2 separate regions of the Homo sapiens genome follow, and region 2 is linked to region 1. Evidence: fine-mapped expression QTL. A gene starts in region 1. The other region holds a variant in brackets. All regions are shown on one strand. Distances are between the middles of the regions. Region 1 holds the start of PDE6D (phosphodiesterase 6D). Region 2 overlaps PDE6D (phosphodiesterase 6D).

Region 1 (4,394 bases):
TGTGGCTGCTTCCCTTGTGCTTCAGGATTTAATCAGCTCAGGTCAAGCTTTTCCCAAAAGCCTGTTTCTGGATGCACTAACATCACTGAATCGGTTGATTCGCTTTTCCTTCCAGTGGGCTGACACAGATTCTGCTTTCTGAAACTCTTTTCCGTATTTGTCTCTTATCCTCTTTCTCAACAGGTTCAAGAGCTAAGACTGAAGGTGAGAAGCTCAAACTTTTCTGCTTTGTTCAAAAGCCATTAAAAAGGCCTTTCTTCTTTTCAGCAATACGGTATTTCCAATCAGATGAAAACGTTGCTTCTGAAATCTCTCAATTCTCCAGTTTCCGGTTTACTGTCTACAAAGCATGTTAAGTAGCAATATTATTACATTGTTAGATGTTAATAGTATAAATTATTTGAGGGAAAAATAAAATCCATGTCATAGCTTTTCCAGCACTTCAGTCATCCCTATATACCTATTTGATCCATTATGGAGAGAAACACAGAAAGGCACATGGAGCTATAAAAGAGGCTGCTACTAAACCAAAACATGAAAGTACTGAAAGTTTATCACAGATGGTAGTATGCAAAGGTGATACAGCCTTTAGTTTTTTTAAAAAGCATAGATCAATTTCCATTCGAAAAATCTCACTTGTACATCCAAAACTTCCTTTTTGCACTGTGGTCTAAAATGTATTACCAACTTGGTTTCTGATTATAGCAAAGCAATTAAATTTGCAAGCGTGACATGGACATTGTGAAAACGCAACAGAATACCAAGAAAACAGTGCTTTACTAAACCTCCAAGGGAGGAGCCCTGAAGTGGTGACTACCTTTTCACTGAGGGAGCAATTTAAGAACGTTCGTACTATAGATTACAGATAGGATGCATGAAGAGATTAAAGTTGGCAGGAGAATGGAAAATTTGAATATCCAAGTTTGCATTTTTTCATCTGCATCATATGGTGACAGACTAACACACTCCACGAAAACACAAAGCTTCCTTACGGAGAGGATGCAAAAGGGGCACCACAACAGGCCCGAGGCAATGATTTCTCTACCCCACTCTATCCTACCGTGGCCCCAGCGACATCACACCATTGCTGGACAGCTCCACCACAGCTAGGCATAACCGCACCGACAGGAGCGAGCAAAGACACCTCGGCTAGGAGTCCCAGCGCGAGGCACCCCACACCTAAGCCTATGGTCCTCATCTTGCTGGAAAGAAAACTGAGGCGCTGAGGGGGAAGCAGTGACCAATGCCTGAGAAGGCCAAGAGTGTTAAGACGAGGTCGATCTTGGACTTCTCTTTCCCCACCTCCCCCAACTACTCCAGTCCTGGAAGAAGCCACAAGTTTGGAAGAGAAGTTGTGGAAACCAGACGGGGGTGGGGTGCGGTGCGGTGCGGTGGGGGACCTGAGAGAGTTTTAAAAGCACTGGTATTTGTCCCACACAAGGTCGCCCGCTCCAAGTCACTGTTCCCCGCTCCCCGGGTAGGCTTATAGCCAAAGAGGCTTCTAGGCTTCGAGATCAGCCCACCGCGCCCCCTCAGCCCTTCTCCGCGGGCCGCAGCCCCATCCCGGCCTCTGGGTCCCGGCCGGGGATCGGAACCCAGCCGGCTTCTCCGACAGCGTTTCCGACGCCCGGCACCTCTCGCAGCCCCGTCCCCCAGGCTCCCCCGTCTCCACCCGCCACCCCCCGGCGCTCCCGTCAACGTCCCCTTCCTCCCTCAGGACGCCCCTTGGGGCGCCTCTCGCGCCGGGTCCCGCCGGGTGCTCGGCACGCTGTTCCTTTCCTCTCCCCTCCCGCGGCCCTTCTTCTGTGGGGCCCACCTGGCGCGGCCCCCGCCCCCGGCCAGTCTCCTCAGTGAGCGGCCGCCTCCCAAGTCCTCCCGGCCCCGCCCCGCTCCCGGACGGATACAGTTTGAAGCCCCTCAGGATCTCCCTGGCCCGCTCGTCCTTGGCTGACATGATGCGGCGGTCGCCGCCCGCGGCTTTCTCACTCTGGTCGGCGGAGCCTCGCAGACGGTGCCCAGGAGCCGAGGATGGAGCCGCAGCCCGGCTTGGAGACCTCGGGCTAGCAGCCGCAGCGGCCAGACCAGGACCGGCCTCTCTCTCCCCTCAGCTCCCGCTTCTGATCCCTTCTCCTTCCCCCTAGCCTCGCAGTGCCCTCCTGGAACCAATGGAAAGCCAGCCTTGGCGATTGGCATCTCAACCAGCCAGTAGGAGCGCGCAGCGGCTTCGCAGGGGGACTGTTAACGTCAATGGGAAGGGCCCTCCCCGGGAAGTCCCATAGGACACAATATTCATCTGGTGTTGTTGCCTAGAGTTTGTCCCAGCGGAGGGTTGGCTTCGGATCTGCAGAGGCTTTAGGGACCTGCTCCAGCCACTGAGCACACTAGCCGTCTGAGACGGCAGCTGAGTTGCACTGTGCGACGCGACAGAGACTACATTTCCCAGCATTCCAGCGGCGCACTCGGGGGACCACAGATCCCAGCGCACCACAAAGAGGCCCGGGGACTACAAATCCCAGCATCCCCTGCACTCGGTTCCTCTGTAACTTAGACTCCAGTGTGCCGCGCAGTGTGCGCAAATTCACAAACCCGCCCGCTGAGTTGGTCGTTTCGGAATCCCGAGACTTGAAACCCAACGGGAAGACCCTTCTCACCCTCAAAAGAAGATGACAGCCCGCAGAGAGTTAACTTCTGTTTACATGGAACTCAGACATCTGCAAATCATGGTAAGGCTGCAAACAACAAACAAAAACACTGATTAAACCGTGAAAGAGAACAAAATGACTTCTTCAAATCGTGCTTGTTTGTTGGTCTGAGGCGCCTTTTACATGTATTTCAGGGTTTTTTGCTGTATTCCTGGTTTGCACCGGGAGAGCTATGGATTGTATACTCAGAATATCAAAACATAAAGGGACTTTGCTAATCTATCCCCTGTTGTTACGTATGAGGAAATTGAGGCCCAGAGAGGCGAAGGGATTGGCCACAGATCACAGCAAGTTCGGGCAGAGTTAGAATTCAGCCCTAAGTCGGCTGACTTGCAGTCTGGACTCTTTGCACCACACTAAGGAGGTGATATTTTTAGCAGCATGGCAATGTGAATTATTCTCCTTGAACGGTTTTCCTATCCACTGTTGAAACACCCAGAATTAGGTAGCATTTATTTGGTGGATTTCTTGCGAGTGAGGGAGTGTGATATTTATTTATTTTCAGCCTAGGTAGGATTTGGTGTTTTGTTTTTTGCCACTCAAGGTGACATTTAATGTGATTTCAGGAAGTAGGTAAAATTACAGTGTGAGCCACGGTTTCCTTGGAAACCTCCTCTGTCCTTCTCTTGGCCTTCCTTCCTCTGCCTGTCCCCACTTTCACCCATCTGGGAACTCACCCAATTTTTTCTTCCATGTAATTCAACAAATATCTTTTCAGCCTGTTATTTGTCAGGCACTGAGTGGGTAAAAGGTGAAGGACATGGTCACTGCCACCAGGAAGATGAACATATATTTAGGGAAATAAGGAGACTCCACTGAGATTCAAGATGGAGTGTGATAAAATGGCATAAAGAAATGACATCAGAATGCTAAGGAGGCCCTGATGAAAAGGTTCATTGCAGCTGGCAAAACTTTAATGGACAAGGTGGCATTTGAACTTGAATTTTTTTTCCATGTTAAAAAAGTTTTTTTTTTGTTAATGAGGTGTAACATACAGTATGGGAACAATTTTCACATAGGTATACACCCCTGTCGCCACTACCCAAATCAAGATATAGAACATTTCTAGCACACTTAGTGCTCCCTCCCAATCAGTATTACATCCTTACATATTGAGATAATCACTCTTCTGACTGTATCACCATAGATCAGTTTTCTCTGTTCTTGAATTCCAGTTAAATATAATAATACAGTATGTACAGTATGTGTCTGGCTTTTTTACTTTATCAGTATTTTTGTGAAATTCATCCATGTTGTGTGTAGCCTTTTAATTGCTGAATAGTATTCTGTTGTATGTTTATACCACAATTTATCTTTTCCACTGTTGGCGGGCATTTGGGTTGTTATTTTTTGGACTATTATTAGCAAAGCCGTAGTGAGCATTCTTACATGTTTCTTTTTGTAGACACTTGCACACATTTCTAGGAGAGGAATTGCTAGTGTGTAGGGAGGGTATGCACATGATCAGTGATAGTAGACATTGCCAGTTTTTCAAAATGATTGTACCAATTTACGCCTTTGCCAGCAATATGAGAGAGTTCTAGGTGCCTCTTATCCTTGTCAACACAAGAGTTTTGTTGTCAGTCTTCTTAATTGTAGCCGTTCTGGCTGAATGTGGTATCTCATTAAGGTATTTATTTGCATTTTTCCTGATGTTGAGCACCTTTCAATGTGCTTGTTGGCTAGTTGAAC
Region 2 (4,394 bases), 36 kb before region 1:
GAGGTTGCAGTGAGCAGTGAGCCAAGATCATGTACTGCACTCCAGCCTGGCGACAGAGCAAGATTCCGTCTCAAAAAAAAAAAAAAAAAAAAAGAAAAGTCTCAAAATATAACAAAGGGTTATTCAGCAGAGTGCCTGCAATGTGATGAGGAGTCTATCTTTCTGTGCACTCAACCTGCTTGTGGGCATCCCTGCATGAATGTACTGTCGCTTTCAGATCACATTGGCTGTGTCATTCTCCCCTCAGGGTGTGCAATTCCTAACAAACTCTCCTTCTATGCTCAATACATCTCCAGACAGTGCCGTTCCTCTCCACCCGTGTGATCTGCCTTCCTCTGGTTCATATTTTCAAACTCCACTTTTTTTTTTTAAACAACTAAATTCAAAAGCAAGTTCACATACTTCCTTAGGTCATGTCTCACAATTATAATTACTATAAATATGCTCACACATCCCAGGGTCTCTATATGTTAAGAGAAAGCTTCCCAACGGCAGAAGGAAAACAACAGATACTACTGCTCTATCAATCCCCTCTGAGCTCAGATCTAAACTGTCCCAGGCAGCTAAGCCCAAGGTTTTCTGAAGACATAGTCCTCATTCGACCTTCTCTGAACAAGCTTTTCATTCTTTCACAGCCGATAGTGTCCTATGTACCCACTACGGCAACATGGACATCAGACTTTCTTAAATTAAACAATAAGACTAAACAAAACTAAAATGACTTCTACAGTTCCAGGCTCACAGGCAGATGAGGCATTCTAGCAAAACTAGAAAAGTCCCGGAGGGTCCCTGCACAAAGCTGCAGTTGGAGCAGACTGAACTTCCAGAAAAAGCACTACTGTGACTGGCAGAGGTCAGAAAAGCAAAGCCTGGGGCCAGGACTTACTCTTCAATCTATGTATTAAATGATAAAAAAGAAAGATGTTTTAAATTAGTCTTCTATCTGGCATTTAGTGAATAGTAAATTTAAGCTCCCCTTATTTCAAGGGAGAGAAGTAGCTAAAAATACATGGTTGATTTCCACAACATGAATGTCTTTTCTCTGTAAATAACCAGGTTAAGGACTTAATTGCTTTTCTTTTTTTTTTTTTTTTGGAGACAGAGTTTCGCTCTTGTTGCCCCGACTGGAGTGAATGGCACGATCTCGGCTCACCACAACCTCCGCCTCCCGGGTTCAAGTGATTCTCCTGCCTCAGCCTCCTGAGTATTTGGGATTACAGGCATGCGCCACCATGCCCGGCTAATTTTGTATTTTTAGTAGCGATGGGGTTTCTCCATGTTGGTCAGGCTGGTCTCGAACTCCCAACCTGAGGTGATCTGCCTGCCTCGGCCTCCCAAAATGCTGGGATTACAGGCGTTGAGCCACCGTGCCCGGCCCTAATTGCTTATCTTTTTGGGAATCACATAAAAATATATTCTATAAAATATATTTATATGTTTAGCCAGTTCAATATACATAGTTATTCCTGCATGTGCCCTAATCTGGAAAATTATCTACCAGTATCTATATCATGTGCATCATTTTATAATCCTTGCACATTTTAATCCTTAACAAGTTTTGTAAGATTTTATCCTCAATACAGCATTAGAGAAATACAAAGAGAGCTCCATCCAACGACGTTGGGATTGAGGCCATTGAAGGCCCCTCTAAGTTCTGTAATTTTAGGGGTGAAAAGGAAGCCCTTAGTTCATGGTAGAAATGCAGCAATTTGGGAACATCTTTATAAAATGGAAATCCATAATAGTCTATTAGTAAGGAGAAATAAAAGTTATTAAGGTAGATGTCTTAAAATAATAACAA[T/C]GAGAAAAGCTGGTCCTCAAAAGAGGAAACTTCAAGTTGACTTCTGAGGAGCCAAAACAAAAACAAAAACACACAAAAAAAACCGAGGAAACATTTGGCTAAAAATGCTAGAAATGAAAGACAAGCTTTGATGATTGGTCATCATCTGGCTAAAAACATATTTGTTTTAACAGCTTACTGCTAACCAGATTTTTTAGAGAAAAAGAGCCTGAGTTTTAAGACTCAAAGGTCAAGTCACTTCCAATCTTGAGAGGAGGATTAGGTGGACAGGCTTTAAAGGAGGGGCTGGAGTACTATTTATAAGTTCTACCCTCTGGGTCAGCCAGGTCTTTGTTCATTTAAAAGCTCCCTGGTGATTTATACGAAGGATGAGCACAAAGGAACATTCCTTTCCTATGGGAAGCCTCCTGCTTAGAGGAGATCGGGCTCTGGTACCCTCTAATTTGGAACCAGGCAAACATAAGGAAGCACTTTCGTATGTAAAATAAGAATATCTTAAAAGTAAGCTTCAGAACAAAACCAATAGTTTGCAAAGTATTAAGCGTTAGGAAAGGTAAAAAAGGAAGTAAATATTCCATAAATATTATGGAAGAATGGGTGACACTTGGCTCAACACAGGTTACGCAAATCCTCTTGTGTCTTACAGAATAGTTGTGACCTGGTGTGATTTAGGTGCAGTCTGGTGCTGGAGCTGGGGGCAGACTTGAGGTATAGAAGGCAGTGAAGGAGGTGGGTGGTAGAATGGGAAGGGAAGGATTGGGGATCAGAAGAGATCAGTTAGATGAACGGGGTACTAGGTAAATTTCCTTGAGAGATGTGAAAGTAGAAAACAGGATAATAAAATGATTTGAACCAAGCTTGTCCAACCCATGGCCTCTGGGCTGCATGTGGCCCAACACAAATTTGTAAACTTTCTTAAAACTTTTTTATTTATTTTTTAGTTCATCAGCTATCGTCAGTGTATTTTATTTTTTAATTTTTATTTTACTTTATTTTATTTTTGAGACGGAGTCCCAATCTGTTGTCCAGGCTGGAGTGCAGTGGTGCAATCTCGGCTCACTGCAACCTCCACGTCCCAGGTTCAAGTGATTCTCCTGCCTCAGCATCCTGAGTAGCTGGGATTACATGTGCCCGCCCCCATGTCCGGCTAATTTTTTGTATTTTTAGTACAGACGGGGTTTCACTATGTTGCCCAGGCTGGTCTCAAACCCCTGACCTCAAGCAATCCACCTGCCTCGGTCTCCCAAAGTGCTGGGATTACAGGCATGAGCCACAGTGCCTGGCCCGTTGGTGTATTTTACATGTGCTCCAAGATAATTCTTCTTCCAATGTGGCCCAGGGAAGCCAAAAGATTGGACACTCCTGTTAAAGTAGTTTGTAACAATCATCTATGAGTATTTTGGAATGAGTACACTGGTTCTGAGAGACTTGATTCGTTTTAAATGGAAATAGTCAACATCATTTTTTATATAATAAACAGATCCACACTACATGCCCGTACCTCACCGGCCAGTTGAAGGAGGAAGAAAGAGAAATCAGGGTAAGAGAACAGAGAGTGAGAAGGAATGGGGAAGACAAAAAGCAGAAAGAGAAAAGAAACACGGGGGACACACACAGGAGAGACACAGGGACGGAGTGAAGGGGAAAAAAAGACTGAGAAAAAACACAGAAAGGCCCACATACAACTCAGAACCAAGAGACAGAGCCAGGACAGAAGGCAACAAAAAGGAAGAGTCTCCGAAAATTTGGAGATAGATCCCATACAGTTTTCTTCCTACTTTAATACTGTATAGCTGTCTGGGTTAGTGAGTTTCACAAGACAGTTTGAAATTGATGAGAACAGGAGGAAGACTAAGTATTCCAAGTGTTAAGCTCCTCTGAAAATGTTAATTGGCTGGTTCATAGTTTCGTGTAATTTATCATCCAAACGATGATACTTTTTTTCTTTTGAGATGGAGTTTCGCTCTTTGTTGCCCAGGCTGGAGTGCAGTGGTGCGATCTCGGCTCACTGCAACCTCCGCCTCCCGGGTTCAAGCGATTCTCCTGTCTTAGCCTCCTGAGTAGCTGGGATTACAGGCATGCGCCACCACACCTGGCTAATTTTTGTATTTTTAGTAGAGACGGGGTTTCACCATGTTGGCCAGGCTGGTCTTGAACTCCTGACCTCAGGTGATCCGCCTGCCTCGTCCTCCCAGAGTGCTGGGATTACAGGCGTGAGCCACCACACCCGACCTATGATACTTTAAAGAATGAAAGAGTGTGCTAACTGAAGAGCACATTTAAATGAGCTGGTTCATAAAATGTGCTACAACAGTCCTTGGCATTAGTAAGCCATGTGTTAGCTATTATTATTATCAATGACAATTAATTCTTTATTGTCTCCCATCTAGCATTCTGACTGGTTTTCCCCGCTTCTATTCTTGCCTCCTTCTCCATTCTCTTCATAGAAGGAAAGGGTCTTTTAAAACTGTAAGTTAGATGTCAATCCCTGGCTTTCCTCTGCACTTAAAAAAATCGAGTTCTTTCCATGGTCTACAAGGCCCCTCAATCACTATGCCCTAGGCACAAAAGCCTCTTAACTCTTTCTCCAATA

Evidence for each region. PIP is the estimated chance that this variant, and not a neighbour inherited with it, causes the effect. A credible set is the group of variants that fine-mapping cannot tell apart.
Region 2: its variant is the best candidate, but not a certain one, in a credible set for the expression of PDE6D in whole blood (TOPMed, PIP 0.56).

The regions. Positions count from the first base shown.
Region 1 is chr2:231,779,161-231,783,554 of GRCh38, forward strand. PDE6D (phosphodiesterase 6D) reads right to left here and starts at 2,122. Exons shown (of 5, transcript NM_002601.4): 1 at 1,905-2,122. The coding sequence starts at 1,954. It also overlaps a transcript of COPS7B not described here. RefSeq lists enhancers at 1,289-1,368, 1,919-2,148 and silencers at 1,312-1,535, 1,659-1,708.
Region 2 is chr2:231,743,357-231,747,750 of GRCh38, forward strand. All of the region lies in intron 1 of PDE6D (phosphodiesterase 6D), which reads right to left. Among named protein-coding and RNA genes, the nearest start is that of MIR1244-1, 32 kb to the left of the region's middle. The variant T/C (reference allele first, on the strand shown) is at 1,802.